Regions from separate parts of the Homo sapiens genome. Here all the other regions are linked to region 1. The links come from fine-mapping of genetic effects on gene expression. A gene starts in region 1. Each other region holds a variant in brackets. All regions are shown on one strand. Distances are from middle to middle. Region 1 holds the start of ACER3 (alkaline ceramidase 3). Region 2 holds the start of ACER3-AS1 (ACER antisense RNA 1). Region 3 overlaps ACER3 (alkaline ceramidase 3).

The links. PIP is the estimated chance that this variant, and not a neighbour inherited with it, causes the effect. A credible set is the group of variants that fine-mapping cannot tell apart.
Region 2: its variant is the best candidate, but not a certain one, in a credible set for the expression of ACER3 in whole blood (INTERVAL, PIP 0.70).
Region 3: its variant is the best candidate, but not a certain one, in a credible set for the expression of ACER3 in whole blood (INTERVAL, PIP 0.86).

Annotation. Positions count from the first base shown.
Region 1 is chr11:76,855,703-76,866,568 of GRCh38, forward strand. ACER3 (alkaline ceramidase 3) reads left to right here and starts at 5,216. Exons shown (of 11, transcript NM_018367.7): 1 at 5,216-5,377. The coding sequence starts at 5,275. RefSeq lists silencers at 4,889-4,988, 5,029-5,288.
Region 2 is chr11:77,025,597-77,036,462 of GRCh38, forward strand. ACER3-AS1 (ACER antisense RNA 1) reads right to left here and starts at 10,088. Exons shown (of 3, transcript XR_007062792.1): 1 at 9,972-10,088. It overlaps ACER3 (alkaline ceramidase 3), which reads left to right. Exons shown (of 11, transcript NM_018367.7): 11 at 1-1,201. It overlaps B3GNT6 (UDP-GlcNAc:betaGal beta-1,3-N-acetylglucosaminyltransferase 6), which reads left to right and starts at 8,802. Exons shown (of 2, transcript NM_138706.5): 1 at 8,802-8,882. The variant A/G (reference allele first, on the strand shown) is at 5,667.
Region 3 is chr11:76,954,695-76,965,560 of GRCh38, forward strand. It overlaps ACER3 (alkaline ceramidase 3), which reads left to right. Exons shown (of 11, transcript NM_018367.7): 3 at 4,285-4,337. ACER3-AS1 (ACER antisense RNA 1) reads right to left here. Exons shown (of 3, transcript XR_007062792.1): 2 at 4,140-4,319; 3 at 852-891. Among named protein-coding and RNA genes, the nearest start is that of B3GNT6, 74 kb to the right of the region's middle. RefSeq lists a silencer at 8,427-8,486 and an enhancer at 8,708-9,907. The variant C/T (reference allele first, on the strand shown) is at 4,762.

The DNA of each region.
Region 1 (10,866 bases):
AAATGTACTTAAGTGTTGACAATGGACATTGCTAGTTGGTGGGATTGTAAGTGATTTCTTTTTTTATACTTTTTTTTTTTTGGTATTTTCTAAATTTTTCAACTTAAGAATGTATTGCTTTAAACAAAAGTTTTGGCCGGGTGCAATGGCTTATGCCTGCAATCTCAGCACTTTGGGAGGCCGAAGTGGGCAGATCACCTGAGGTCAGGAGTTCAAGACCAGCCTGGCCTACATGGTGAAACCTGGTCTCTGCTAAAAATACAAAATTAGCCAGGCGTGGTGGTGCACACCTGTAATCTCAGCTACTCAGGAGGCTGAAGCAGAGAATCACTTAAACCCAGGAAGCAGAGGTTGCAGTGAGCCGAGATCATACCATTGCACTCCAGCCTCAGCAAAAAGAATAAAACTCCATCTCAAAATAAAATAAAATAAAATAAAATAAAATAAAATAAAATAAAAAGTTTTAAGATGTAATTTACACACCATACATATTGGCCATTTAAAGTATACACTTCAGTGGGTTTTTTTTTTGGGCATGTCCACAGAGTTGTGTAACTATCACCACAATCTAATTTTAGAACACTTTCATCATCCCCCAAACTTACCCTATTCCCATTAACAGTCACCTCCTGTTCCTGCTCCCTTTCTCAGCCTTAGACAACCACTGATTTACTTTCTATCTCTTCAGATTTGCCTATTCTAGATGTTCCATATATTATAAATGGAATCACAATATGTGCCCCTTGGTGTCTGGCTTCTTTGATATGGCATAAAATTTTCAAGGTTCATCCATGTTGTAGCATGCACCAGTATTTCATTTCATTTCTTTTTATTGCAGAATAATATTTCATTGAATGTGTATATCACACTTATTAATCTATTCATCAGTTGATGGACATTTGGTGTGTTTCCACTTTTTGGCTACTGTGAATAATACTGCTATGATCATTCTTGTACAAGTTTTTGGTGGATATATGTTTTTAATTCTCTTGGTGTATACCTAGGAGTAAAACTGCTTAGGTCATATGATAACTCCATTTAGCATTCTGAGGAACTGAAAAAGTTCTCAAAGCTGCTGCACCATTTTACATACCAGCGATGTTTGAGGGTTCCACTTTCTCCACATGCTTGCCAACATTTGTTGTTATTTGTCTTTTTGATTATAGCCATCCTAGGTTGTCTGAAGCGGCATCTCACTGTGGTTTTGATTTGCATTTTTCTAATGGCTAATTATGTTGAACATCTTTTCTTTTTCCTTTTCTTTTGTTTTTTTTTTTGTGACGTAGTCTTGCTCTGTCGCCCAGGCTGGAGTGCAGCAGTGCAATCTCGGCTCACTGCAAGCTCCGCCTCCTGGGTTCACGCCATTCTCCTGCCTCAGCCTCCCGAGTAGCTGGGACTACAGGTGCCCACCACCACGCCCGGCGAATTTTTTGTGTTTTTAGTAGAGACGGGGTTTCACTGTGTTAGCCAGGATGGTCTCGATCTCCTGACCTCATGATCCGCCTGCCTCGGCCTCCCAAAGTGCTGGGATTACAGGCTTGAGCCACAGCGCCCGGCTATGTTGAACATCTTTTCATGTTTTTATTGATCATTTGTATATCTTCCTTGGAGAAATGTCTATTCAGATCCTTTACTCATTCTTTAATAGGGTTATTGGGAGTTACTTGTCTTCTAATTATTGAATTACAAGTTCTTTATATATTCTGGACACAAGTCTCATATAAGATATATGATTTGCAAATAATTTCTTTCATTCTGTGGGTTGTCTTTTCACTTTCTTGATGGTATCATTTTCAGCAAAGGAGTTTTTAATTTTGATGAAGTCCAATTTATCTATTTTTCCCTTTGTCGCTTGTGTTTTTGGTGTTTTATATAAGAAACCATTGCCTACCCAAGGTTACAAATATTTATTTTTATGTAAACTTCTAAGAATTGTATAGTTTTGGCTCTTACATTTAGGTCTATGATCTATTTTGAGTTGAATTTTGTTTATTGTAACAGGAAGCATTCTAATTTCATTCTTTTGCATGTGGATATCCAGTTGTCCCAGCACCATTTGTTGAAAGACTATTCAATCCCTATTGAATTGTCTTGGCATCCTTGTTAAAAATCAATTGACCATAAATGTAAGGGTTTATTGCTGGACTCTCAATTCGATTCCTTTGATCTACATGTCTATCTTCATGCCAGTACTGCACTGTCTTCATTACTATAGTTTTACAGTAAGTGTTGAAATCAGGAAGTATAAGTCCTCCAGCTTTGTTCTTCTTTTTTGAGATAGTTTTGACTTGTCTGGGTCCCTTACATTTCCAGGCATTGCTTTTATGCTCAAGGGGGGAAATTTTTTAGAAAAAAAGAAAAAGGAAGGTAGATATTGCTGAAGGAACTGTGAAATTCATTTTGTGTTTTCTGAGTGAAACTTCTGCAATGCACCTTTTCTCTCGGATGGGGGAATTTCTCTCTCCTAAAATCCGTCCTGGTCACGGTAGATTTCCTTTTTCACTATTGAGGAACATTGTGCAGAGTATTGACTCAGCCAAGGCCTCATCCTGCCTTGAGTCACTTGGCTGGGTCAGGGGTTATTTTCACATAGGGGGTTCCACAACACCCTAATTTTTTTTTTACTCCTAGCTAAGAATGATCATACTCTATTGTTGTGGTCTCTGCACTGTTCTGATTGCACACCTCATCGGCAAATCACTTTTGCGTATGAGTTTTTGCATATTCATTTTGAGCATATAAATATATAAATATTTCATTCATTTATAAATTATATATGCTCATGATTATTACATAAACACATAAACAAAACGGAAGTTTTAGAATATGAGATAAAGTGACTAGAAATAGATGTTTCCCCACACCTCAATGGCTTTTATCTCTCTGGAGACGGCCTTCTTGGATCTTTCATGTTTACCTCTGTGTGGTCCTAGCACCCAGGCAGCCAAACAGGGCCTGGTATATAGTAGAAGCTCAATGACATTCAAAATAAAAATTTCAGGCCAGGCAGGGTGTAACTCAGGCCTGTAATCCCAGGACTTTCGGAGGCCAAGGAGGGTGGATCACTCAAGGTCAGGAGTTCAAGACTGGCCTGGCCAACATGGTGAAATCTCGTCTCTATTAAAAATACAAAAATTAGCCAGGTGTGGTGGCAGCCTCCTGTAATCCCAGCTATGGGGATGAGGGGGTACTGAGGCACGATTCCCGGAAGGCAGAAGTTGCAGCGAGCCAAGATGGCACCACTGCACTCCAGCCTGGGCGACAGATCGAGATTCTGTCTCAAAAAAGAAAAATTTCAGAGAGGCTACTATTCGTATTAAAATACACTGCTTCCGGCCGGGTGCGATGGCTCACGCCTGTAATCCCAGCACTTTGGGAGGCCGAGGCGGGTGAATCACGAGGTCAAGAGATCGAGGCCAGCCTGGCCAACAAGGTGAAACCCTGTCTCTACTAAAAATACAAAAATTAGCTGGGCGTGGTGGTGCACACCTGTAGTCCCAGCTACTCTGGAGGCTGAGACAGGAGAATCGCTTAAACCCAGGGGGCGGAAGTTGCGGTGAGCTGAGATCATGCCAGTGCATTCCAGCCTGGCCGACAGAGCAAGACTGTCTCAAAAAAAAAAAAAAAAAAAAAAAAAGATACACTGCTTCCCTAGGTTTTGCACCTAGCAAATAAAAGTTCTGCATCTATTTCCTGCTAATTGGCTATGGTTATTTTGTAGAAAGGCTGTGGGCTCTTCATCTCTCCTTGTCCTCTCTTTTACCTTTGACTTGCACCACATCTGACTTATTTATTTAGAAAATAGCAGTTGTATCATCCTTCATTTTTACTCTTCATTTCTTACTGTGTATTCAGGCAGAGTCCTAATACTAAGACCATAAAGAAGGGAAAGCAAGGTCTCTGATCAGGATGTAGCACAGTAGGATGTGAACAAAGGGCAAGGAAGCTCTAGGGTGTAAACATCTGGGATGGCTTCAGAGAGCTGGATTTTAAAAGAAGAGTGGGGAGTTGGTCAAACGGAGAAGAGAGTTAGGCTGTCCCAGTTGAACTGTGGGAGCAAAGGCAGGTGACCCAGCGCATTCTAGGAGAGGGGAAAGTTTGAGTTTGGTGTAGCTGAACACTAGGGGCAAGGGTGGTTGCATCTGTTTTAGGAAGAGCTCTCTGGCAGACCTGTGGAGTACTAGACTTTTTATTTATTTATTTATTTATTTATTTATTTATTTATTTAGAGACAGGGTCTCGCTCTGTTCTCCCAGGCTGGATTGGCACAGTCTCAGCTCACTGCATGCAATCTCCACCGCGGGGGCTCAAGTGATCCTCCCACCTCAGCTTCTCAAGTAGCTGGGACCACACGTCTGAGCCACCGCGCCCAGCTAATTTTTGTATTTTTCGTAGACACGGGGTTTTGCCGTCTACGATACTCCCAGACGGGGGCTGGGAGTATTAGACTTGAAGTTGGAAGTAGGGGTAGGCTGTTGGTTGCCTGAAGAGCAGGGCACAATTATAGTTAGAACGTGGAAACCTCTGTGCTTGGAGGCCCAAACGAAGCAGGGAAACTTTGCTTTAGTGCTCTAGCTAGCAGCATTCTTTTTTTTTAGGATCTCAGAACCTACTTTTTTTTTTTCGGTCCTGGGTTGTTCACCCTTTCCCTTTGTACCGAAGAGACACTTACACCTTTATCAGAAAATCACGGTTTATTTCCTGAGAATCACGGGGATTGGTTGGGGGTACTCTGTTTTGGGGCTCCATTTGAGGCCTGTGGCTCAATGGAAGACATAGAGGCGCTTCGCCGCACAGGTTTAATCAAGCAAGGGCTTGATAGAAGTATTCATCCCACCCCCGCCCCGATTAAATCAAACCACACGCACACAAATAGAGGCTCTGGCACATCCTGACAGAATATAGCCTCTGGGATGTCAGGAACCCCCAACCTACGGCCATTGGCGTGTCTGCACCGGCCAGGAAGCCCAGGCCCCCGGCTCCTTCCTGGATCACGCCCCTGCCCCGCCCAAGGGTGAAGAGGGGCGGGGCCAGCCGGCGCCCTCCGAGTGGGCCTTACACCAGGTCGGGCCTGGCCCGGCCCCGCGGCCCAGCGGCGCCGGTGGGCGGGGCCTCCGTCAGGGCAGTGTCAGTAACGGCGCCAGGCCCCGCCCCTCGGGGAGGCAGGGCCGGGCGGGGCGCGAGCGAGCGCGCGGGCTGGGCCGGAGCCGGCCTGGTCGCCAGCCTAACCCGGCACAGTGAGCGGAGCGCCTGGGCGGCGGCGGCGGCGGCGTGATGGCTCCGGCCGCGGACCGAGAGGGCTACTGGGGCCCCACGACCTCCACGCTGGACTGGTGCGAGGAGAACTACTCCGTGACCTGGTACATCGCCGAGTTCTGTGAGTGTGGCCTGAGGAGGGGAGTGGGGGCGAGAGGGCACCGGGCTGAGGAGACGCCGTGTGAGGAAGGCAAAGAGCGAACCTGGCCGCGAAGGGAGGTGCCAGGCCTGGCCCCGGGAGCTGGAATGCGGCGCCCTGGGCCAGCGGGAGGCTGAGAGGAGCGGGCCGGGAGTCCAGTGTGTAGAGGGAGGAGTACCGGGGTCTGGGAGGGAGGAAGGGGGCCTGAGGATTGGGGGGGCAGAAGAGCAGTGGGAAGTGGGGAGCCCCTGCTGGACCTAAGGGGGAAAGCCTGAAGAGCCGGGTTGGGAATGGGAATTCCTGCCCGAGAGCGGAGTGGGGCCAGGCTGGGAGAGTGGAGGACCCTGCCCCTTGGAATGAGGGCCCAGGACACCTGCTCTGCTGTTGCCACCACCAGAAGGGTACAGTTCCTAGCTTCGTCTTTCCCCCAATCCGTGAGAATTCTACCGTCTTTCCCTTCCCTTTTCACTGGAATATTAGACCTCCTTGCTCACCTCCAGGGAACAGTTTCACTAGTCTGAGATCTGAACCATCCCACCCCTATCCCCCAGGATGTCTTCAAGTACCAGAGGTCATCTGCTCTCTGAGTATGATTATTCAACTGTCATCTTGCACCAGGAGTCGAAGGCATCTTGCACCTAGCCTGTACCTTCTGCCCCTGCCAGGCTCCCAAGAGCACAGAGGACCAAGTCCCTGCTCCATTCTGTCCTATCCAACTATCTAGGAGTTAGGGGTCATCTGAGGACACTACTTCCACCGACTGCACCTTCTGAGGATTTAAGCATTCTTCTTTAGCGGCTGCTCTGTCAGGCACTGCTGGTCAGGTTGGGCTTGTTCTGTGTGCCTATGTGGGTGTCTGTCTGTTTTCCTAGACGATTTTTCCTGCCAGGCTAGGAGAAATCTGCCACTTCTTTTTCTATCATTTAATCAGGTTTTGAGAGCACAATATTTGATCCTTCTTTTAGGTACCTGCTTCTGGCAAAGTGCAAAGACTATCCTTTGGCTAATGATTACTGCCTTCTTTTAGTTGGATCTACTTCTCAGGACGTGAAGTGAAACTCTTCTTAGCTAACCTTCTCATTGTTGAGTCCTGTTCTCAGGCATCTGTGCATGGCTTTGTAGGAAAGAGGCAAGCATATCATGACAAATGGTCCCACTTTATTCTGTTCTGGTAATTGGCTAAGTTTCAAAAAAAAAAAAAAAGAACACTTTTTGCAGTTTTCAGGACTTTAGTACTATTCTCTTATGACCATGATTTAGGCTAAGAGTCACTTTTCTTCAACTATTAAATTAATAATTTTTACATAATCATGGAGAAATATTGGCAAAGGGATCATTTGTAATACAATTACTTGGGAACCCACATGTTGGCAAAGGAAGCGCTTTACCAGTTTGTTGTTAGATCACTTTGGCAAGCCCATGCCTGGTCCAGAGAACCATGACCACGAGGAAAGAGATGTAAAACCATGCACTCTGCGCTGGAAATGTGTAACATGGAAAAGAGGAATTCAAGAGTCTTCAAATATTGGATGGGCTATCATATAGAATAATTTTTTTTTAATTTATTTGGAATCTGGAATTAGGGCATATGGGCAGAAACTAACTGTAATGGGGAAAAGTTTGCTTCAATATAAGGAAAAACCTTCTCACCAATGATATGGGAAAGGTTGACTTGGGGGACAGAGGACTTTCTGTCACTGAAAGTGTTAAATCAGACATTGTTCAATGAACTCAATATTTTCGAAGGAAAAAATTATTTAATAGAGAAAAGGGGCTGGCCTTAGTTGCAGCTTTATGGGTCTATGTAGGTAATAATGACTCTTAGTTTAGAACCAAGAAAAAACTGGGCTGGGCATCGTGGCCCATGCCTGTAATCCCAGCACTTTGGGAGGCCAAGGCAGGAGGACTGCTTGAGGCCAGGAGTTTGAGTCCAGCCTGGGCAACATAGTGAGACCCTGTCTCCATAAAAAATAAAAAAAATTAGATATGCATGGTGGTTTGTGCCTGTAGTCCCAGCTACTTAGGAGACTGAGGTGGGAAGATCACTTGAGCCCAGGAGTTCAAGGTTGCTGTGAGCTGTAATTATGCCACTGCACTCCAGCCTGGGCAAGAGTTAGACCCTATTTCTACAAAAAAAATATAAAAAATGCAAAGAGAGAAAACTGGCGGTAAGTCATGTGGACTCTGAGAGAGCAAGATACTGTGTTCTGGCAGATAGCTCTGAGAAATGGGAAATGACATTTGTTCTCAATGTGCTCAGAAGAGGAAACTCTGAGCAGACTGCAGGGAGGGTTTTGACATAGGAATCAGAGGGGTTGCAAGAAGAGGATGAGTGAATGTTTGCAGCCCTTTGCGCATGCACCTTGGGAGAAAATCATCTGGAGGAAGTTGAGGTCAAGTCATCTTACCATAGCAAGTCATGAGTATCTACAGTAATATATCTTGGACTAAGATAATTTGATCTTTGAAAAATATGCTGATTAATAATAATATGTTTAAAATATGTGTTTAAAGCAAGTGCAATATTAACATCACGATAGTATTTACATTAACAATAGTATTGATGGTAATATTAAGGATAATGTAATAATAGCTATTATCTAAGTGGTCACTTGTACTACACTTTGCTAAGCACTTCATATATCTTATCTCTTTTGATCTTTACAGTAATTTCAAAAAGAAGGTATTATTATCCCCATTTCAAAGATAAGGAGATTGAAGTTCTAAGAAATAATTTACCTAAGATTACAGTAAGTGATGTAGAGATAGTGTTCACATTGAAGTCTGACTCTAAAGCTACTATCCATGTTACCTCTCCATCATTACTTCTATCACACATTCATTGTTTTGCCCCTATATTCAAGAAAGGAAGACAGATATGAAATACTATGCTATCACACAGGACAAATTGAACAACTATTCAGTTTACTCAACCATCTTTCAACTATCTTTCAGCATTAGAATATATGTATTTTAGGGAATAATGAAGTGTTTGGGGAATTGCATATTCAGATATGGCAGTAGTTCTCAGTCACTTTCAGCACCCGAAAACTGTCTTCCTAGCATCAGCCAAGATCAGTTTAAATTCCTTTTGTTTGAGCATATTGTAAAGACCAGAGGAAAAGGTCTCTCATTGTGAAATAATAAGCCCCTTGACCTGCCAGAAGTTAGAGGTACAGGCAGTCCTTGCTTTGCATCATAGTGTGGGACCACACAAATGACTGTGCAAGTTAAAACCAGGTAACACTATGTTAATAATCAATGGGAAAAGTTATGATTGTTCTGTGATCTTTAAAACTTTTTGTCAAACATTGTAAACTCTCTTACTGTTGGTTATGAATATGTAGGGAAATGAAAAAAGTAAGCATATTTATTTAGTATACTTTAAAACATTAAAAACATTGAGAAATAAACTATTTTGTTTATAAAAATCACTTATCAAGAGTAATTAAAACAGTGCTTGCCTTTTTGTCACATAACTCATAATATGGAATGGGTATTTTTTTTTTTTTTTTTTTTTGAGGTAGAGTCTCGCTCTGTTGCCTAGGCTGGAATGCAGTGTCGCGATCTCGGCTCACTGCAACCTCCACCCCCTGGGTTCAAGCAGTTCTCCTGCCTCAGCCTCCCAAGTAGCTGGGATTACAGGCGCATGCCACCACGCCTGGCTAATTTTTGTATTTTTAGTGGAGACGGGGTTTCACCATTTTGGCCAGGCTGGTCTCGAACTCCTGACCTCAAGTGATCCACCTGTTCAGCCTCCCAAAGTGCTGGGATTACAGGCGTGAACTTCCATGCCCAGTTGTCTTTTTTCTTTTAAATTAATTTTTTTTTTTTTTTTTTTTTAGCCAGCTACAGCTACACTAATGAGGGCCAACAGGTTTTTGGATTTTTCTTGAGACAAGGTCTCCCTCTGTTGCTTAGGCTGGAGTGCAGTGGCACAATCACAGCTCACTGCAGCCTCGACCTCCCAGGCTCAAGTGATCCTGCCACCTCAGTACCCCATAGCTGGGACTACAGGCGTGTGCCACCATGCCCAGCTAATTTTTTTTTTTTTTTTTTGGATTTTTAGTAGAGACAGGGTTTTGCCATGTTGCCCAAGCTGGTCTCAAACTCCTGAGCTCAAGCAGTCCTCCCACCTCAGCCTCCCAAAGTGTTGAGAATATAGGCATGAGCCACCATGCCCAGCCGGGATGAGTACTATCCCTTCATGAATTCTTTTCTAATTTGTATCAGCTTCCAAAATTTATCCTTTGCACTTTTAAGATTGTGAAATCTCTCCAAGAGTTCCTTTAATGCAAAGTTTTTTTTGTTAGCATAATTTCTCCTGGGACATCTTTATCCTTTTCACCACAACTACTTTATGCATTTACGTTGATAAGTTTGCCTTCTCTTTCTCTGAATTCCTCAGATTGCATTTTTTTTTTTTTTCCAGACGGAATCTCGCTCTGTCACCCAGGCTGGAGTGCAGTGGCGCAATCTTGGCTCACTGCAACCTCCAGCTCCTGGGTTCAAGCAATTCTCGTGCCTCAGCCACCCACATAACTGGGATTACAGGAGTGCACCACCATGCCCAGCTAATTTTTGTATTTGTAGTAGAGACGGGGTTTCACCATGTTGGCCAGGCTGGTCTCAAATGCCTGACCTGCAGTGATTCACCTGCCTTGGCCTCCCAAAGTGCTGGGATTACAGGTGTGAGCCACCTTGCCCAGCATCTTTTTTTTTTTTTTTTTCTTTTTTGAGACGAAGTCTCATTCTGTCGCCCAGGCTGGAGTGCAGCGGCGTGATCTTGGCTCACTGCAACCTGTGCCTCCTGGGCTCAAGCAATCCTCCCAGCTCAGGCTCCCAAGTAGCTGGGAGGCACGCACCACCATACCTGGCTAATTTTTGTTTTTTGTTTTTTTTTTTTTTGGTAGAGATGGGGTTTCACCATGTTGGCCAGGATGGTCTTGAACTCCTGGCCTCAAGTGATCTGCCCACCTCAGCCTCCCAAAGTGCTGGAATTATAGGTGTGAGCCACTGCACCCAGCCCCTCAGACTACATATTTAGAGTCCCTTGAATGGCAGTAGCGTCAGCATTCTTATGGTTAGCTATTTCTTCTATAATTCTGTTTATGTTTGATTGGAATTTCACTTCCAACATTATACATTTTTGTTTCTCTGCTACCCTTACATCATTCTTGGCCAATTCTCTCCTTCTGTTACTCAATTTTGTAACATGGCACATAAGTTTATCACCAGGAGACAAGGAGGCAACTCAACTACATGCTTTGCTTTCTGTACATGAACTGAATAACTGGTACCAGGTTCACTGTGACTGATCATCAACAGACAGTGAAAGAAGTGACCTGGTTGGTCACTGATGGTGATGTACTTCTGTTATTTGTATACTGATTTGTGGACTTAAGATGTAGCAGTGAAGTTTGTACTATATTCAGCTACTCACAATTAGTATACAGTGGTAACTGAAATTT
Region 2 (10,866 bases), 170 kb after region 1:
AGTAGAGCTGGGTTGGCCAGGCTGGTCTTGAACTCCTGACCTCAAGTGATTCACCTGCCTTGGCCTCCCAAAGTCCTGGAATTACAGGCGTGAGCTACCGTGCCCAGCTGGTTTTTACATTTTAAAAACGTTTAGAGAAAGAAGAATATGCAACAGAAACTGTATGTAGCCTGCAAAGCCTAAAATGTTTACTCTCTGGCTTGGGAGTTTGTCTCCCCTGCTCTAGACTGTCAGCAAGTGGTACAGTGGTACAGTACAGTGGTACTGCCCAACTGCACTTCTCTGCAAGGTGATTCTAGTGTGCACTTGTCAGAATGAAAATATGTTATTCATTTAAGACATCTCATGTCTTTGAATGTAATCACATGATTTGTATTTAATATTTACATGACCTAATTATTTTTTCACGTCAGTTTTTCTAGATTGGCAATAGCCTGTTGCAAAGTGCCTAAACCTTTGAGAAAAATTACTATGAGCAAGGTCCATGATTTAGTTTTCAATATAAAGGGAATTCCATTCTATACTGTAAAATCCAAAAATGCTAGTTGCCCTCAGCTTTTGAGTTGACTTCCAGAAAGTTGAGATCTTTTGACCATTTTTTCTCATGTCATATAAAATGTGCCACATGGTAGTTGTCAAGCTGTGGTAGTCATGTACACTTTTTTTCTTTTTTTTAACTTTCTAAAAGGAAAAGTTCAAAGTCCTTTCCACAGTTAGTCTTCGCTTCTTTTGGATTTTTCTTTTTAGAGCTAAATTATTCATACCAATGAATAAGTGAGTCTGTTCTAAGATATAGGGGCCATTATCTATTTTTGCTTAATGGACTCATGTGGCATTGTTCACTATCATGCCTTTCCATACTTGTAATATTTCTGAGTCACTTATTAATGTGACCAACAGATAAACTGTTCAAGCTAATACAGCATTTCCTAACTTCATAGTTGTCGCAGATGTTTGTTCTAGTAGCGATTATTTAATAAACATACATTGTACTGAATCTTACTAGCAACTAACTATTTTCAGGTAATCTCAGTCTGCTTATTCACTTTTTCCATTTGATTTGCTAATGCCACAATCATTTTTCTAGAAAATAGTAGGATAATGTATTTTTTCCTGTCTGCTATAATGGAGACTATATTTCTGCATTCATTACCTCTCATAGGTGAAAATATTAAATTAAATAATATTGTTTTGAATAAGACTACTGGTAGTGTTTCATCCCTGATTTATATTTTTAAAATCTATACATTCATATAAAGGCAGGGCTACCGTGTGTAATTATAGAGTTTACGTACTACACAAAGGCACCCAGTTGAGAGAGGAAGGAGGGTGAATGAGAGGCTGAAATCTAGCCTGTGCTCAGCCTGCCAAAGATAGGGTTACATCTCAGAGGACACATCTTTTCCCAGTTTGCTTAAGCTGGCAGTATAGGCCAGCAGCAAGCCTCTTCATGGAAATGACATCCAGTCATTATCCTGGGAATTCTTTGTCACTGGGCTCCTAACACTGTACTGCAGTACCTTTCTACTCCAAACCTGAGTATGTTACAAGGTTAAAAGCTAATAATTTTTTAATTAAACATTTATATCTTTAAATACTCAGTATCTTCAACTTTAGGAGCTGTGAAGTAAACACGAACCATCCAGCTTCACACAATGAAGAGGGACAGATCAGGAACAGAAAAAATGGTCCTGCATAAGCCATGTGTGTCTGTGGTTTATAACTTTTAACTGAAGTACCATCTACAAGATATAAAACAAATTAGAATTTCCCATAACTCACCTAGTTCCTCAAACCACAGCTTTTCAAATATTAGCTTTCTTAGCCAAGCCTGCTGGAATGGGTGGTTTTAGTCATTGCTGACCATATGGTTGATTCTTCAGCTAGTCCCTCCTTTGTGTGTCAGGGTGGGGCAGCCTTGCCTGGATGAACAGATGGATGCTAGCAAGAGGCGAAACAGGAATCTTTACCTGACAAAACACAGACATGAGTGTGCAAAGCCATTTGGGCTGTGCTTTGTGAAGGGAATGGCTGAAAAGGAGTTTGGATGGCTTTATTTCACCCTGAACAGTACACACCCGCCTAAGAAAGGCATCTGTCATTTGATTTAGCAAATTTTATGAACTTACTCTGGGCTTCTCTCTAGTGCAGTTCTGGGGTGGCCTTTTCAGCTCTTTTTTTCTTTCTTTCGCCCTGGACTGGAATGCAGTCTAACTCAAGTGGGTCTTCTTAGGTGACAGAGAAAACACGACCTGTCTCACTTGACAGGGTGGCCTAGTCCCAAAGTAAGGCTTGATTCTCAAAGGAAATGAGAAAGCAGAAAATGGGGGGATCCATTTATTGAGCCCTACTATGTGCCATCCATTCAATAAACTGGAAGGTCTGTTTTAGGTGCTAGGAGTACAATGAAAAATAAGACAGATACCTGCCCTCATGGCACTTAGTGTCTCAAAAGTAATTTTGCCAATTACATTTGGGATGAGTGTCATGAGGAAGGGTATAGAGAGTTCTCGGAGGGAATACGAGGGAGCTGGAGTAGGGAAGACATCCCTGAAGATGAATATCTACACCAAGAACTGAAGAACGAGAGGTATTAAGGAAAGTAGGGGAAAGGCCCTTTACAGCACAGGGAGCCAGAGGTGAGTTTCTGGAGAGATGGACTGGAATGACATCACATAGGGCTTTGAAAGCCATCTTACAAATTTGAATTTGGTTGTCCTGGTGCGGTGGCTCATGCCTGTAATCCCAACACTTTGGAAGACCAAGGTGGGAGGACTGCTTGAGGCCAGGAGTTCAAGACCAGCCTGGGCAACACAACGAGACCCCATCTCTACAAAAAAAATTTAAGTAGCCAGGTGTGGTGGCACTCACCTGTAGTTCCAGCTACTCAGGAGGCTGAGGTGGGAGGATCGCTTGAATCCAGGAGTTCCAGGCTGCAGTGAGCTTAAATCAACTGCACTCCAGCCTGGACAATAGAAACATCACCTTTGAAAGAAAAAAAAAGAATTTGAATTTGGAAAGCTCTGGAAAAGATGGAGGATGGATTAAAGGGAGCCAGTATGGATGTAGGGATACTAGATAGAGGAAGAATGGTGGATAGTGGCAGTGGAGATACGAACTCCAATATATCAGAGGTACATGGGAAGAAGGTTTAGGGTATTATAGAGTACACTTGGGATTTGCAGAGTTTGTAGACTGTGTGAGACATCCTGGCAGAGAGCTTAAAGATAATAAATGTCGATCTGGAGCTCAGCTGAGAGATCTGGGCTGAAGATGTAAATTTAAGAATGATGGGTCCGGGCACGGTGGCTCACGCCTGCAATCCCGGCACTTTGAGAGGCCAAGGTGGGTGGATCACGAGGTCAGGAGTTCGAGACCAGCCTGACCAACATGGCGAAACCCCGTCTCTACTAAAAAAAAAATACAAAAATTAGCCAGGCATGGTGGCACGCGCCTATAATCCCAGCTACTCGGGAGGCTGAGGAAGGAGAATCGCTTGAACCCCAGAGGTGGAGGTTGCAGTGAGCTATCATGCCACTGTACTCCAGCTTGGGCAACAGAGCAAGACTCCATCTCAAAAAAAAAAAAAAAAAAAGAATCATGGACACACATATTAATTGAAATGGAAATGGATGAGATCAGGGAAGAAAAGAGGGTCTCAGACTGAGTCCTAGAGGGTCTCAGACTGAGTCCTAGAAACCAAACCATTTAAGGATTAGGTAGAGGAATTTTTAAAGACAGAGCATCTCAAACCAAAGAGAATCACCAGACACTTGGAAAGGAAGCCTATTTGAAGGCCTGGGTTCTAGTTCCTCAAAGTCTGGATGTCCATGGCTGGGCTGGAGGCACAGTGGCTGTCAGCAGAGAGAGCTACATGGCTGAGGGGTAGAAGGCAATAACTCTCACAAGACACTGCATTGAAACAGCAGGCTCCAAGCTGGAGCCCACTGGCATTAACCCTGAGAGGGTACTTACTGTTAGAAAAGTTATCTCCTTTTGGGGCATCTGAAGACCTAGCTTAGGATCCTGGTCCTCCACTGAAAAGCTGTGTTGTTGTGGCCAAGTCACAACTAAATTTTGGGTTCTATATCTGTTAAATGCAGGATTGTCTTAGGGGTTAGCACCACGGTGTAGTATGAATCTAATCATAACAGTTTCTGAATGGTATCTTTCCTATAAGATTGCTTGGCCTGGGCTTGTAGGGGTACCTCAAAACTGGACAGACGAGAGGAGTCAACCCCTCTTCCCTCTCTCACTGACCAGTGCAACCTGGAACAAGGGACTATCCGGCCTTCTCCCCTTCCTGGTCATCAGGTGCTGGCCTGTGCTCACAGAACCTGTTTGCCTTCGAGGTGGAGATGGGTTTTTCTGCCTTATCCCGCCCCTGTTTTTCAGACTAGGGTGTGGCAGAACATGCACTGGACTGAGACTTTTTCTGCTGATTAAAACACCCACCCATTGTAAACGGGAAGGCTGAAAAGGCGTCAGAAGTGCGTTAATTCCGTCTCTGAACAGCACATACCTTTCCAAAGCCACCCTTGGCACTCACACCCACTACATATGTCTCACTAAGTTCCTCCCTGGCCATTCCAGAAACCTCCTGGAGAGGTCAGAGCTGTTTGTCTTAAAGTCTGTTCATTTTATTCCAATAATCTTACCCCCATTTAACTTTCTCTCCACTTCAAATCTTTCCCAAATTTCCCGAAAGATGTATCTGCCAAGGAGAAAAGATAAGTTTTTAGGGGGCTTGAAGAAAAGTTAACAAAATTCATTTAGTCATTCAGTCCACCTGCTCTGGACTCTCATGAGTGGGGCACAGACAGGGAGGAAAGTGGTCATGTCCCTCCCTGGGGCTGCTCTCTTGCCCTCATTTGTTCTCAGATTTAATTAGTACCCCCAGCTCCTTATTTAGTCCTTCTCCCACCATGAAGTTGCCTGTGAGTCTTAGGGCTTTCCTAATCCTCTAGCTGTATCTCACCATCCCCATCAGAAACCTGCACTCGGTCCCTCCCCTTCTCTCTCTCTTCCTCCCACCTCTTTCCCCCTTCATTCTTCTCATCCAGGCACCTCCCCCAGGTAAATTAGTAAGAGGGACGAGGAGCCTGAGAGATGAGAGATGAACATTCTCACAGAATGTCCACTAAGTCACCAAGCTATGAGGATGCTGTTTGGAATGAAACTATTCACGTTTCTCTATTACCGTTAAGGTAGCTACTGTCTCCAGCAGGTTCCATGGCAAGGAAGGTGTGTTTCCCTTCCACCTCAGCCTCCCTTCCTGAGATTACGAGGATCCTAAACAGTTGACCACTCTTTGGGGGTGTGTTGCCCCTTGAGCCAGGCATGCTGTCCCTGTGACCTGGGGTCTTAGTAGTGGTCAGGACTGTATCGGCTATAAATGACGAAGTCCTGGTGTCCAGCCAGAGTGAGGCAGCCAGGACAGTGTAGCTCTACCTCCATCTCACTACTGAGAGACATGAGCTATCACGCTCTAGGACAGCAGCATTCCTCCCGAGTAACAGTCAGAAAGGGGTGATCCGACATTGGGCTCTCTGTGTCAGTGAGTGGAGACAGGGGAAAGGATCTAACTGTCCAGCCCTAGCCGCTGGTGGAGTCACTTCACCGGAGTCCCACAGCGCCTCCCAAGAGTCAGGGCTGCTGCCGCCAGC[A/G]CCTCCTTTGCTGCATTCCTTGCTGTGGTCGCTCCTGGTCCCCATCCCGACCCCTCAGATGTCAATTAGGGCACCCTGGAAAGAGAAGCAGCTGCCTGTGAATCCAGTATGCTGGAGGTCACTCCCAAAGTTTTTCCAGTAACAATTTGTAAGGTCAAAACAATAGGGGGCTACTTGATACCACCAAGAGTTTGTCAGGCAAACATTGAGAAAGAGAGAGAGAAGAGAGAGAGAGAGAGAGATCTTCCTATTTAGATACCTAGAAATGCTAGCCATTCTAAAATTTTTACTTAAAAGGAGAAAAAATGGACTGGTTATTTGGCAGTCGGGGCCATCCCAGAGAGCGCCTCCTTCCTAGAGACAGTGGGTCCCTTTCCTCCTTCCTCTTATCAACCAGAGGCTGAAATTAACACCCACAGCTTCTGCTGGCTAAAAGCCTCAAAAACAACAACAACAAAAATCAAACAAGAGAGACTAATGCTTTAGGCAGCTACAACTCCAAGAAAAGCAGAGAAACCTTATTTATTTATTTATTTATTTATTTATTTATTTATTTAACTCTGTTGACCAGGCCGGAGTGCAGTGGTGCTATCGTGGCTCACTGCAGCCTCAATCTTCCAGAATCAAGCAACCCTCCCACCTCAGCCTCCCAAATAGCTGGGACTGCAGGTGTGCATCACAACACCTGACTGATTTTTTTTTTTTTTTTTTTTTTTTTTGGTAGAGAAGAGGTTTTACTATGTTGCCCAGGCTGGTTGCAAACTACTGGGCTCAAGCAATTCACCCACTTGAGCTTCCTAAAGTGCTGGGATTATAGGTGTGAGCCACCATGACCAGCCTAGAACTTTAAACTTTAGGTACTGAGCAAACACCAAATCTAGGAAACATAATGCTAGCCTTAGATTACTTATTGATTTATGAACAAACCCCTAGATACAGAGGAAAATAAAAGGTATGTATAAATTATATATAAATAAATGTATATAATTTAAATATAAACTACATATAAAATAATGTATGTAAATAAATTATATACATATTTTAAAATAAATATAATAAATAGGCTGGGTGTGGGGGCTCACACCTGTAATCCCAACACTTTGGGAGGCTGAGGTGGGTGGATCACCTGAGGTCATGAGATTGAGACTGGCCTGGCCAACATGGAGAAACCCCATCTCTGCTAAAAATACAAAAATATTAGCTGGGTGTGGTGGTACATGCTTGTAATCCCAGCTACTCAGGAGGCTGAGGCAGGAGAATGGCTTGAACCCAGGAGGCGGAAGTTGCAGTGAGCCAAGATCAAGCCACTGCACTCCAGCCTGGGTGACAGAGCAAGACTCCGTCTCAAATAAATAAATAAATAAATATACATACATACATATATATATATATATATATATATATATATATATATATACACATACATACATACATATATATATATACATACATACATACATATATATATATACATACATACATACATATATATATATATGGCAAGCTGAATATATGCTATATTTTCCACAATTTGATTTAATTGGAAATTCAAGATTCCTAATTTATATACTAAAGAAGTTGTGTAACAAAAAGATTAAAAACAGCACTGATTGGTTTTTGCGCCTCTACAACATAGGTTCTAACTTAACATTTGTGAAAATGTACTAATTGTCAAAAATTCATGAACTTAATATTGGGGGTCAAAATATAATTATACCTGGGGATCCCACTAATTTACACACTCTGACCCTATAATCTTGAGAGGGTAACGACATATAACAGTTTTTAAATGCGTATGCCTCAATTTAAGTGTAGCCTTGCCTAAATTTCCCATGCTCATATACCCACTGCTATAAAATGTTTTCTATTGGACATAGATGCTTTGACAAAATAAATAATAAATTAGATTGGGCATGGTGGCTCATGCCTGTAATCCCAGCACTTAGGGAGACCAAGGCAGGAAGATCTCTTGAGCCCAGGAGTTCAAGACCAACCGGGGCAAAATGGCAAAACCCCATCTCAACAAAAAATACAAAAATTAACCATGTGTGATGATGTGTGCCTATAGTCCCAGCTACTCGGGAGGCTAAGATGGGAGGATCACCTGAGCCCAGGAGACTGAGGCTGCAGTGAGCCCTGATAGTGCCCCTGCACTCCAGCCTGGGAGACACAGTAAGACCCTGTTTCAATATTAATAATAATAATAAATTAAAGTGTCTCTTTGTCATTGGCTTGATAAAATGGGACCCCATGAGCCCCCATTTTATAGTTAATATGGCCCAATGTAAGTAGAAGCAGGCCCTTCAAGGATTAAAACTCATTATAAAAAACCTTAGTTTTAAAAAGGGTGATTATCCCCTACTACTTCTCCATTTAGCAGCCCAATTTTGCCTATGCTCAAATCTGGAAATATATATATATATATTTATGTATATACATTTTAATATAGATTTATATTTTTGAATATATTTATATATTTTAATATATAAATGTAATATAGATTTTATCTCTATTTTAAATATATAAATGTGTATATATGGTACCCTGTGATGGATCACTACAACTTAACATTGTGATCCCATCCATTAGGGCCCCATACCTAATATTAAAATTAAACTGATTTTATTCAATCAACAACAATAAATACTTTACTCTTACAGATGCGGCCAACCTGTTATTTCTGTGCCTATTTCCACAGCCCTTCAGGCAGTTTGCCTCTGCCTCTGAAGGCACACAATACACTTTTCCAGGCAACTTGCAGGGGGCCTCCACATGAGGGCCGTCATCACACACTGTCTTTACAGACAAGATGCACCTTCTCCAGGAGCACAGGTACGATACTGCACCTGGATTCCAGTGATTCTCCTGCCTCAGCCTCCCGAGTAGCTGGGATTACAGGCACCCACCACCATGCTCAGCTAATTTTTATATTTTTAGTAGAGAATCTCCTCCAAGGATATTCACTGGACCCACACTCTAAGGACATTTGAGCTTAAAGAGGAAGCAGGCAGTCACTGGTGGCTAAGGAAGCCTGTAGCTGCCCTCCCCCTCTTCACCTTACCCCTAAGGAGGAGGGGTGATGTCATGGATTGGTCAGATTCAAGAGAACTGAACCACAGGCCTGCGTGGAACCTCAGTGTGTGAAGTAAAGGGATTAAAGGCTAGTCTCAGGCTGGGGATGGCTCCTGTCTATTTCTTCTCTCTCAGAGACTGCAGGTAAGCTGGGGGCCTGGGCTTCTTCCTATTGGGAAGGAGGTACATTTTTCCTTCTTCGCATTCCCCTCTAATCAGAGTGCCAAGCAAGAAACAGGGGGAGGCCAAGGGGAGAGGAATGAGGACAGAATTGCCCCTATTGCACAGGTCCAGTGCAGACCCCAGGGCTCAGGGATTCATGCTGGGGGTTGGGGCCAAGGCCCTAATAGCTAATAAAAGGTTTCTTTGCCTTTTCTGCTATATGAATATTCTGCTATACGAATATTCCTCCAGGAATACCCTGGGATAGTATGGAATGGGTGGGTGGCCCAGGAATCTGTGTTCCAGCTAGCTATCTCAGCATCAAACCAGAGGAGGGAATGACCAAAGTAGTTCCTGGGAAAAGAAGAGGGACAATTCCTGGCCAGGCGAGATGGCTCATGCCTGTAATCCCAGCACTTTGGGAGGCCATGGCGGGTGGCTCACCTGAGGTCAGGAGTTCGAGACCAGCCTCGCAAACATGGTAAAACCTCATCTCTACTAAAAATATAAAAATTACCTGGGCATGGGGGTGGACGCCTGTAATCCCAGCTACTAGAGAGGCTGAGGCAGGAGAATCACTTGAACCCGGGAGCCTGAGGTTGCACTGAGTCGAGAAAAAGAAAAAGAAAGGGGAATTCTAGGCAGAGTGAATAGCATTGCAAAGGCAAGCAATAAATGGATGTGTTAATATGTGTGGGGCAATAAACAGAGTGAGAAATGCCTGCAGTTAGAGGATCACAGAGGAACTTTATAAAGCTTATAAAGAGGAACTTTATACCATACTGTGTGAGAAGGCTAGACTTCATCCATAAAAAGATGGTCTCCTGTGTTAGCCAACTGCTAATGTTATTCTGGTGCCTACTACATGCCAGGCATGGCTCTGAATGCCTTACATGAATTAACTCATATAATTCTGAGACACTGAGATAAAGGAGTTGCCCAAAGTCTCACAAACAAGGAACCTGAGGTTCAAAGGGATGGAGTAAGTGGCAGATTTGTCCTCTTTACCAAACTTGCTACTCAACAGCCATGACATCAACAAGGAGACAGGTTATGTTGACCTGGACTTACCGTGAGGTGAGCTGGAGGAGGTGGTATTTGAGCTGTGTCCTGAGAGACAAGGGATCAGGGCCAGCAGAGGCTGGCAAAGTTTAAGGTGCATGGGCTCCAGGATGCCTGATGAAAAAGAACCATAGAGAGAAATGCCCAATACTTCACAGCAAGTCAAAGCCCTCAGGCTGCACAGTGTGGCATCCAAGAACAGAGGTGAGCGAGCCAGCACCGCCCTTGGGAACAGGGCCTTGCCCAACACCTTTTCCTTTACATCAGAAGTTGGCTGTGATCCAAGATCTTCTATCCGTTTTATCAGAGTAAACGCAAACTTCTTTGAAACAAGATTTATTGTTACATTAAGAAGATTATTTTTCTTTCCAGAAATGATGGGGGATGCTTAACTTTTTTAACTAGTATTTGTGTAGCACGTTAACATAAACAGGATTCTCTCCTTATTTCATTGAAAAATGAATGTTAACTTTCTCAATTTTTCAAATGAGGATATTGAAACCTAGGAGATTAACTCAGGAAAGAAGCTGGGGCTCAAACTCAGTTATTCAGACTCCAAATTCTGTTTTCATTCATTTTTTTATTCTTTCATTCATTGAAAAAAAAATATTGCATTCCCCAAATGTGCCAGGCACAGGACTGCGCACTGAGTAGACAGTTGACGGTAAAAGAGACATAGCTTATCTCGCAAGCCCTCTTCTCACAGTGCCTCTAACACAGAAGCAGGAATAAGTGAAGAGCAATATACTATATAATACTCTAGTATTTCTTATCAGCACTCAGTGATTACATCCACACTTTTGCAGGGTTCTCACACTTGCATTTGTAGTTCACTGCTCCCATTCTTTCACTGAATGCCTGCTTTGTGCTAGACATTGTGTATGGACTGTAATACACAAGCAAT
Region 3 (10,866 bases), 99 kb after region 1:
GGCTCAAGTGATCCTCCCACCTCAGCCTCCCAAGTAGCTGTGACTACAGGACTATGCCATCACACCCAGTTAACCTTCTGTATGCTTTGTAGAGACAAAGATTCTCCATGTTGGGCAGGCTGGTCTCAAACTCCTGAGCTCAAGGGATCTACCCACCTTGGCCTCCCAAAGTCCTGGGTTTACAGGTGTGAGTCACCATACCCGGCCCCCTTTTTGTATTTTTAATGGTTTGTTTAAAGTTCTGAGACAGGAACCATATTTCTCTTGTACACTCACTTATCCCAGTGGAAATGCTTGGAGTATTAAGTACACAGTAAATATTTATTGAAAACAAATGGTGTCCTCGTTAAGGAAATACTAATCAAAATGATAATGAAATACCACTTCACATCCATTAGGATGGCTGTAATCACAAAGACAGCCAGTGATAAATATTGGCAAGATGTGGAGAAATTAGTATATTGCTGATAGGAATGTAAGATGGTACAGACACTCCAAAAAACACTTCCTCAAAATACTAAACCATGTGACCCAGAAATCTCACTCCAAAGTATATATGAATGAATGAAATAAAAACATATGTCCACATAAAAACTTGTATATGAGTGTTCACATATACAATATGTGAAATACAATATGTTCATAATAGTGAAAATGTAGAAACAACCTAAATGTCTTTTTTAGCTCAGGCTGCCGTAACAAAATACCATAGACTGGGTGGCTTAAGCAACATACATTTATTTCTCACAGTTCTGGAGGCTTGGAAGTCCAAGATCAAGGTGGCATTTAATTTGGTTCCTGGTGAGGAACCAAAACCAAAAAACGTCTCCTTCCTGGCTTGCAGATGGTCACTTTCTTGCTGTGTCTCACATGGCCTTTCCTCTGTCTGTGCTGTGGAAAGAGAAGAAGCAAGCTTCAGTGTCTTACTCTTATAAGGGCACTAATGCCATCCTGGGGATGCCACGCCCATATGACCTCATCCAAACCTAATTAACTCCCAAAGGTCTCACCTCCAGATACCATCACATTAGGGGCTAGAGCTTCAACATATGAACTGGGGAGTTGGGGAGGCAGGCATAGAAACATTCAGTACATAGCAATGTCCATCACCTGATGAATGGATAAGTAAAATATGGTATGTTCATATAATGGAATATTATTATTCGTCCATAAAAAGGATGAATCACTGATGCATGTGATGACATAAATGAACCTTGGAAACATTATGCTTAAGGAAGAGAAGCTAGACATAAAAGACTACATGATGTATGATTCCACTTAGATGTAATGTCCCCAGCAGGCAAATCTGTACAGACAAAGTAGACTAATGATTGCCCAGGGCTGGAGGGGTTGAGAGAAAATGGAAAATGACTGCTAATGGGTATAGGCTTTCTTTTAGGGGTGATGAAAATGTTCTAAAATTAGGTTGAGGTGATGTTTGCACACCTCTGAATATACTGAAAACAATTGAATTGTATACTTTGGATTGATTTTATGTGAATTATATCTCAAGAAACCTGATAAACAGCAAAACTTGGTGGTTTGCTTTAAAGGGGCAAAATACAAAATATTGCATAGAGAATGCTGTTCTATTACATGTTTTTGGACTCTAAATGTCTAGAAATGTCAGTTGCAGGAGAGCACTTTTTAAAAGAAAGGAAAATAACAAAGAAAAAAGAGGAGTAAACCTAGTGCTACCCTCTCCTGAAAGGAATTTGAAACCTCTGAGTAGCCACCAGAATAGATTTTCATCAGAATACTTTTTTATGTGTTACCCAGATTGTTGAAAGGAAATAAACTGTAGAGATCTCTAAAAAGTCAGATGTTTAATGGCTCTGTGAGCAAAAGCAGGGAAAAAAATCAGACTTTTAATGCTATATAATTTAACAGTATCAAGAGAACACTTTGAAAAGGTTTTGATAAAAACAGTCCTTGAGTAAGGCATGATAAAGTGGCCATTCTACCAAGATGAACAATCATCCCATCTCACTTTTTTTTTTTTTTTACTTCATAGTATATTGTTATTGTGTGACTTTAAATAACTTAAAGGTTTTTTTTTTCCTTTACATTGAATAATTTATCCACCTTTGTACCTTCTAATTACTTTTTTGGGAAAAAAGGCACGAACCACCCCACTTCCTTATTTCTCTAATGAGATGAGTGCAATAACTATCTTATTTCCCTCCTTTCATTTTGAGGAGTAAAAATTACAATCTAGTGATTTTTTTAAAGGCAAGAATAACATATAGTTTGAAATTTTTCTCAGGTGGCTTCATACAAATTATTTAATGACGCCCCTACTCACTACATTTGTTGGGCTAAGTCCTATGTATCCTTAAGTTTAATCTGTACCATCATTCTTGCATTCTTGGATTTCCTTCACAAGTGTTCCTTCTCTGTGCTTCTGTGGTACTCAACGCATATGTCCATGTGCAGGCACCTTCTGTTTATCTGCCTGTCTCTTCCATTAGACTATATGTTTCATTAAGGCCAATGACTGGATCTTATCTTTGTACCTCAGCATCTATAACTGAATTTGGCAAATAGGATGCACTCAGTAAATTCTGAACTAAACTGAATCAGAAAAAAAAGCTTTATTAGATGTTATAAGGGCTGATACTTGATCAGTTAATTTTTTTAAGTTGAAGCATAGAATTTTTTAAATTTTGGATATTAAACCTTTGATATATTGAAGCACAGAATTATTGAATACATATATACATGAAGTTTAATTTTTAACTTTTTGTGTGTGTGTTTTTTCATTTTTGAGATGGAGTCTCACTCTGTCGCCGAGGCTGAAGTGCAGTGGCACAATCTCGGCTCACTGCAACCTCCATTTCCCAGGTTTACGCGATCCTTCTGCCTCAGCCTCCCAAGTAGCTGGGACTACAGGTGTGTATCACCATGTCTGGCTAATTTTTATATTTTTAGTAGAGATGGGGTTTCACCATGTTGACCAGGCTGATCTCGAACTCCTGACCTCAGGTGATCTGTCTGCCTCAGCCTCCAAAGTGCTGGGATTACAGGTGTGAGCCACCGGGCTGGGCCTGAAGTTTTATTTTTGTTGTATATAATCTTTGACAATTACTTAACATAGGGCATGACCATTGAATGAGAGACCCTAATTTTAGTTCTACTTACTCTTTGCTTTAAAAACCAAACATTTTATAAAACGCTAAAATGAAAATAGTTTATTTAAAATGGAGGCACTTGGGAAGAACTTAGGACATGAACACAGAATCTTTTTATTTTTTAATTTTATTATTATTATCTTATGTATTAATAGAGATAAGGTCTCACTATGTTGCCCAGGCTGGTCTTGAACTTCTGAGTTCAAGCGATCCTCTGGCCTTAGCCTCCCAAAGTGCTGGGATTACAAGCCTGAGCCACTGTGCCCTGCCTACAGAATCTTTTTAGATTTTTACTATTTTTCCCAGTCTGTAACAGATATCCAACCACACCTAATTCAACATGATTTTTATTAGCAACTTTTTTTTTTTTTTTTTTTTGAGACAGAGTTTTGCTCTTGTTGCCCGGGCTGGAGTGCAGTGGCACAGTCTCAGCTCACTGCAACCTCCTTCTTCTGGGTTCAAACGATTCTCTTGCCTCAGCCTCCCGAGTAGCTGGTATTACGGGGGCCTGCCACCATGACCAGCTAATTTTTGTATTTTTAGTAGAGACGGGGTTTCACCATGTTGGCCAGGCTGGTCTTGAACTCCTGACCTTAGATGGTCCACCCACCTCAACCTCCCAAAGTGCTGGGATTACAGGCGCGAGCCACTGTGTCCGGCCAGCAACTCATTTTTATTAAGTCTACTTTAAGCATTTTAAATAGTTCTTGGAGAAGCAACAACTCTTTTTGCAGTCATAGCTCTGATAACCAAATACAATGGCATCAACAAGTTCAGGAACAAACTGACTGGCTCTTAGTAAGCATACACCTTAGCCATTTGGGTCAGAAGTGCAAAGGAGTAGCTAACCAGCTATGTGCATTAAAACTTATCCTGAGCATCAGATAATACATTTTACAGAAATAATGGAATATTGTTAGTCTAGTAAGTCACTTAGTAGAGGGAATTTAGGAGAACTTATATTGTACTTCTTTTCTACACCAAAATTTCACCAATTATAGCACTTACTCAAGAGTCAGCTATATCTTGCCACTAGATTTTATAAACTTCATTATCCTTAACTCAATGCTTTGAAATGTCTTATTGTCTTCTCAGGTCACTGTCCACGCACAAAGAATTTCATGCTAATTTTTTTTCATTTGTTTAATTTCAGTGGTAGGAATGGGATCCTGGTGCTTCCACATGACTCTGAAATATGAAATGCAGGTTAGTAATGATGAAATTGACAAATGCTTATTTCTCTTAATTCAGAAGTACTTCAGATTTGAGAAAAGAGCACATAACTATGGCTAAAAGATGGGATTTGTAATCTCTGGAGTTTTTTACTTCAAGTCTGAGGATCCAAACTGACTAAGTGAAGTAAAGAAATAAGCAGGTGAGTCCATAAGGAAAACAAGTACAAATAGTATAGGGCTTTTTGACCATCTCTGTGCGGGCATATAAAATTGAGAGCAGCATTAGAGAGCAGAGTCACATGGGGACATCTTAAAAAGACATAATCAGTTCACCAGAACAATATATTCTTATTCTGAGATACCTGCATTCTTTCATGGCTGTATGGCATCCATTTGAATAGTCTGAGTCCCTCTATGTAGCAAGACTTTAAAGCAAGCTTGTCCAACCTGTGGGC[C/T]GCATGTGACCCAGGATGGCTTTGAATGCAGCCCAATACAAATTCATAAACTTTCTTAAAACATTATAAGGTTTTTTTTTGCAATTTATTTTTATTTTTATTTTTCATTTTTTTGAGTCAAAGTTTTGCTCTTATTGCCCAGGCTGGAGTGCAGTGGTGCAATCTTGGCTCACTGCAACCTCTGCCTCCCAGGTTCAAGCAATTCTCCTGCCTCAGCCTCCCAAGTAGCTAGGACTACAGGCACCCACCACCAAGCCCGGCTAATTTTTTATATTTTTAGTAGAGACGGGGTTTCAACATGTTGGCCAGGCTGGTCTCGAACTCCTGACCTCAGGTGATCCGCCTGCCTCAGCCTCCCAAAATGCTGAGATTACAAGCATGAGCCACCGCACCCGGCCGTTAGTGTTAATTTTATGTGTGGCTCAGGGAAGCCAAAAGATTGGACACCCCTGCAGAGCTAGCCAAGGATTTTTAGTTTCCATCCTTACTCTGAGGAGGGCATATATGTCAAGTCCTCAGTCTTTTGATCTCTTGATTTCCCATCACTAATCCAGAAACTTCTAGAACAGTAGTACAAGTAAAATCTGAGCTACATTTGTAATTTAAATTTTTCTAGTAGCTACATTGAAAAAAAGTACACAGAAATGGGTGAAAATAATAATATATTTTATTTGGCTGGGCGCGGTGGCTCATGCCTGTAATCCCAGCACTTTGAGAGGCGGAGGTGGGTGGATCACGAGGTCAGGAGATTGAGACCATCCTGGCCAACATGTGGAAACCCCGTCTCTACTAAAAATACAAAAATTAGCTGGGTGTGGTGGTGTGCACCTGTAATCCCAGCTACCCGGGAAGCTGAGACAGGAGAATCTCTTGAGCCTGGGAGGCGGAGATCGCAGTAAGCCAAGATCACGCCACTGCACTCCAGCCTGGCGACAGAGCAAGACTCTGTCTCAAATAATAATAATAATCATAATAAATTTTATTTAACCCAGTATATCTAAAATACTACTTCTCTCTCTATATATAATCAATATAAAAAATTATGAATAAAGTATTTCATATTCTTAAATCTGGTTATTATACCTGCAATATATTTTTAGTTCAGATTAGGCTTATTTCAAGTGCTCAGTAGCCACATTGGAGTGTCAAAACCTGAGTGTGGCTTATAGGATAGCCACATGGGGTGGGGACCATCCATCACAGAACTCTGGGACCTCAGCCAGTTAAAGAGAGTGTCAACATAGGGGGATAGTCCAGTGTAGGGTGTCAGAGCCTAACTAGGAGTGAGGAGGGTATTTGCACATCAAGGCAGCCCAGGGACAGTGTATTAGAGACCAGGGTTGAAAAGGTATCCATGCAAAGGGGACAGCTCAGTGCAGAATAAGAAGGGTGTCCTCCCAAGTTGGGGGGGTCATTTGACATGCGGTTGGAATCTGAGTGGGATGGAGAGAGTGCCACATAGTGGGGACAGCTTTGTGCCATGTTTTGGTACCCTGGGAAGGTGAGAGTGACTTCTACATGGCAGAGTGGCCCAGTGCAGGATCTGAGAGCACAAGCAGAGTCGAGAGGCTGTCTAAGTGGAGGTGCAGCAGCAGCCCAGCACCAAGTGTTGGAGCCTGAATTGAGTGAGAAGGGCATTGCTTGGGAAAAGGAGAGGTAGCAATGGAAGCCATGTTGCATACAGGGTAATTAATCAAATAAATAAATACATTAAGGAGAATGGGAGCCAGGTTTCTTACTGTTAGAGAACAAAAGTCGCAAATACGGAAAAGATGAAAACTAGAATGAGCTCTGTGGTGACAAACTGAAATTGGAGTTAACAGTGCAGACTCCTATGTTCAATACATACATATATAATAGACATAAATATAGATGTGAAAATATGTGATATGCATATGTATGTATTTTGTGTATATGTATACATACTTAAATATTTTAATACACATATATATACATACATTCTCAAGCTCTGTCCATGAGAGGATCTGGGAATGGGGAACTTCAAAGCCAAAGAATATACCTAGCATCCAGATCTTGTTTTCTAAAAATCATTCTTCTTTAAAAGGAACCAGGGCTGATTCCAAGGGCTGGGGCAGAAAAAAAAAAAAGGACAATATCAGCCTAGATCATCTTTTTATGCCAGAAAAAATGGAAAGGCTCAAAAAATTATGGGAATATGTCAAAAGGACACTGAAGCCAACTTGAAGAGGTTCCTGCTGGCCAAATATGGGGCAATTTGAGCATCAAAATAAATGGTAATGGGTTATAATAGTTATAATGTAACCCGATGAGTAATATGGGAAATCTGAGTCCATACTAGATAATAAATGATGTATTAAATGAAATAATACATGAGTATAAATAAATGAATAAAGAAAAAGTTTGATGTTAAAGAGTATATTTACATAGTTTCAAAGTACCTTTCCACAAAATACTTAAAAAGGGGAGAAAGAATACCTTTACAGTGGAGAAGCCAAGTGGGAAACACCTTAATCAAGCAACCTAATCATCACTAATGGGACAAATCAAAATTATATGTGTTAATGGAAAAACTAAACCCTGTCAAATATCTTTATTTTATTATTTTTAATTTTTATTATTATTATTTTTTGAGATGGAGTTTCACCCTTGTCACTTAGGCTGGCATGCAGTGGTGTAATCTTGGCTCACGGCAACCTCTGCCTCCCAGGTTCAAGTGATTCTCCTGCCTCAGCCTCCCGAGTAGCTGGGGTTACAGGCGTGCACCACCATGCCCAGCTAATTTTTTTTTTTTTTTTTTGAGATGGAGTCTCACTCTGTCGCCCAGAGTGACACTGGAATGTAGTGTGATCTCGGCTCACTGCAACCTCTGCCTCCCAGGTTCAAGCGATTCTCCTGCCTCAGCCTCCTGAGTAGCTGGGGTTATAAGCACCCGCCACCATGCCTCGCTAATTTTTGTATTTTTAGTAGAGACGGGGTTTCACCACATTGGCCAGGCTGGTCTTGAACTCTTGACCTCAGATGATCCACCCACCTGGCCTCCCAAAGTGCTGGGAATACAGGCGTGAGCCACTGTGCCTGGCCTGTCAAGTATTTTTTAAAGGTTTATTCTGAGCCAATATTAGTGACCATGGCATGGTGTGATACTGGTGGGCTGGGGGAAGTCCCCAAACAGCAGTGGACCTCTATCCTAGCCAATGTCTAGGCTCTTGGCACCATCACAAGAATGAATTCAAGGACAAGTCGAAAAATAATGAAAGTAAAGAAATTTATTGCAAAGAGTAAAAGTACACACTCAAGGGAGTGCAGGTGTACTTGAGAGAGTGTCATGCAGTGGGGTTTGGGGCTGCTACCTTTATGTGTTTCTCTAACCAAGGAATGGAATATTCATGAAAATTCCTGGAAAAAGGTAGAGATTTATCAGAACTGTGGTGCCACCCAATAGGTGTTCCTGGAACTGTCATAGTGAGGGAGAAGAAAAGGAAAAATTAGTTAGGTAAACGGTTAAGGCTGGTCCTTGGAAAAGCTGCCTGCCTGAAAAATCACAGCTACAGGCAAGATAGAGCAGCTTGGAGAAAAACTCAGACTGTAGAAGCTGCCTGCCTGAAAAATCGCAGCTACAGTGCACCTGCACAGATAAGCCACAGATAAGCAGGCAAGGCAGGAAAAGTCCAGCATAGAAGCCTTTTGCTCTTTGTATGATTAGCGAGCTCCCAGGAAGTTTCCTCCCCTTTTCAGACATGTACACAGTGGGCCCCATGGAAACTTGCAGAGGGAGGAGGGGGGCTTACTTTAAACAAAACCACAATTATACAAACAAAAAGTTTCACTTTATGCTTACCTAGAGACATACCCACAACTACATAAAGGGAAGTTATGCATAGATAAGTTTCTCAAACACTTACAGACATGAGAGCAGTTTCTTGTGAAAGCTTTTCAATTCAGCTTTTCTTCTTTTGCTTATTAAACTTTTCCTCCAACCTCATTCTTTGGGTCCACACTCCTTAATTTTCTTGAGACCACAAGCTCGGATAACACATTAGACAACGAGACCAGTGACCCTGACCTATTTCAATGGTGCTGCTGGGTTTGTGGTTTAGTATGTTAATGAGCATATAATGAGGTCCTAGGTGAAACCTCGGTCAAATCCAGTGACATGCTGGATCCAATCGGTCTTAGCCAGCTTGGTCCACACCCTGTTTTTCAGGATCTTACCAGCCCAAAGACTCTAAGTCATGTGAAATTGCTGCCTGGAATTTCTTCTCCACCCTGTATTATTCCTATCTCAGGACAATAGAGTCTCAAGAGGTCCTTTGATTTCCTTGTCATGTGATGCTATACCAAAGTCAGGTTGAAAAGTAAGCCACATTATGCTGCGTTAAGAAAAGAAACCTGGTCAAGTAGCCAAGATGGCCAAATAGGAACAGCTCCAGTCTACAACTCTCGGCGTTAGCGACACAGAAGACGGGTGACTTCTGCATTTCCAACTGAGGTACCGGGTTCATCTCACTGGGGAGTGCCGGACATTGGGTGCAGGTCAGTGGGTGCAGTGCATGTGCGTGAGCCAAAGCAGGGCGAGGCATCGCCTCACCCAGGAAGTGCAAGGGGTCAGGGAATTCCCTTTCCTAGTCAAAGAAAGGGGTGACCGATGGCACCTGGAAAATCAGGTCACTCCCACCCTAATACTGCACTTTCCCAATGGGCTTAACAAACCGCACACCAGGAGATTATATCCCGCACCTGGCTCGGAGGGTCCTACGCCCACGGAGCCTCTCTCACTGCTAGCACAGCAGTCTGAGATCAAATTGCAAGGCAGCAGTGAGGCTGGGGGAGGGGCGCCTGCCATTGCCGAGGCTTGAGTAGGTAAACAAAGCGGCCGGGAAGCTCGAACTGGATGAAGCCCACCACAGCTCAAGGAGGCCTGCCTGCCTCTATAGGCTCCACCTCTGGGGGCAGGGAACAGACAAACAAAAGGCAGCAGTAACCTCTGCAGACTTAAATGTCCCTGTCTGACAGCTTTGAAGAGAGTAGTGGTTCTCCCAGCATGAAGCTTGAGATCTGAGAACGGGCAGACTGCCTCCTCAAGTGGGTCCCTGACCCCCGAGTAGCCTAACTGGGAGGCACCCCCCAGTAGGGGTGGACTGACACCTCACACGGCTGGGTACTCTTCTGAGACAAAACTTCCAGAGGAATGATGAGGCAGCAGCATTTGCGGTTCACCAATATCCTCTGTTCTGCAGCCACCACTGCTGATACCCAGGCAAACAGGGTCTGAAGTGGACCTCCAGCAAACTCCAACAGACCTGCAGCTGAGGGTCCTGACTGTTAGAAGGACAACTAACAAACAGAAAGGACATCCACACCAAAAACCCATCTGTACGTCACCATCATCAAAGACCAAAGGTAGATAAAACCATGAAGATGGGAAAAAACAGAGCAGAAAAACTGGAAACTAAAAATCAGAGCGCCTGTCCTCCTCCAAAGGAATGCAGCTCCTCACCAGCAATGGAACAAAGCTGGACGGAGAATGACTTTGACAAGTTGAGAGAAGAAGGCTTCAGAAGATTAAACTACTCCAAGCTAAAGGAGGAAGTTCGAACCAATGGCAAAGAAGTTAAAAACCTTGAAAAAAAATAAGATGAATGGCTAACTAGAATAACCAATGCAGAGAGGTCCTTAAAGGACCTGATGGAGCTGAAAACCACGGCACGAGAACTACGTGACGAATGCACAAGCCTCAGTAGCTGATGCGATCAACTGGAAGAAAGGCTATCAGTGATGGAAGACGAAATGAATGAAATGAAGCCAGAAGAGAAGTTTAGAGAAAAAAGAATAAAAAGAAACGAACAAAGCCTCCAAGAAATATGGGACTGTGAAAAGACCAAATCTACGTCTGATTGTTGTACCTGAAAGTGACAGGGAGAATGGAACCAAGTTGGAAAACACTCTGCAGGATATTATCCAGGAGAACTTCCCCAATCTAGCAAGGCAGGCCAACATTCAAATTCAGGAAATACAAAGAATGCCACAAAGATACTCCTCGAGAGGAGCAACTCCAAGACACATAACTCTCAGATTCACGAAAGCTGAAATGAAGGAAAAAATGTTAAGGGCAGCCAGACAGAA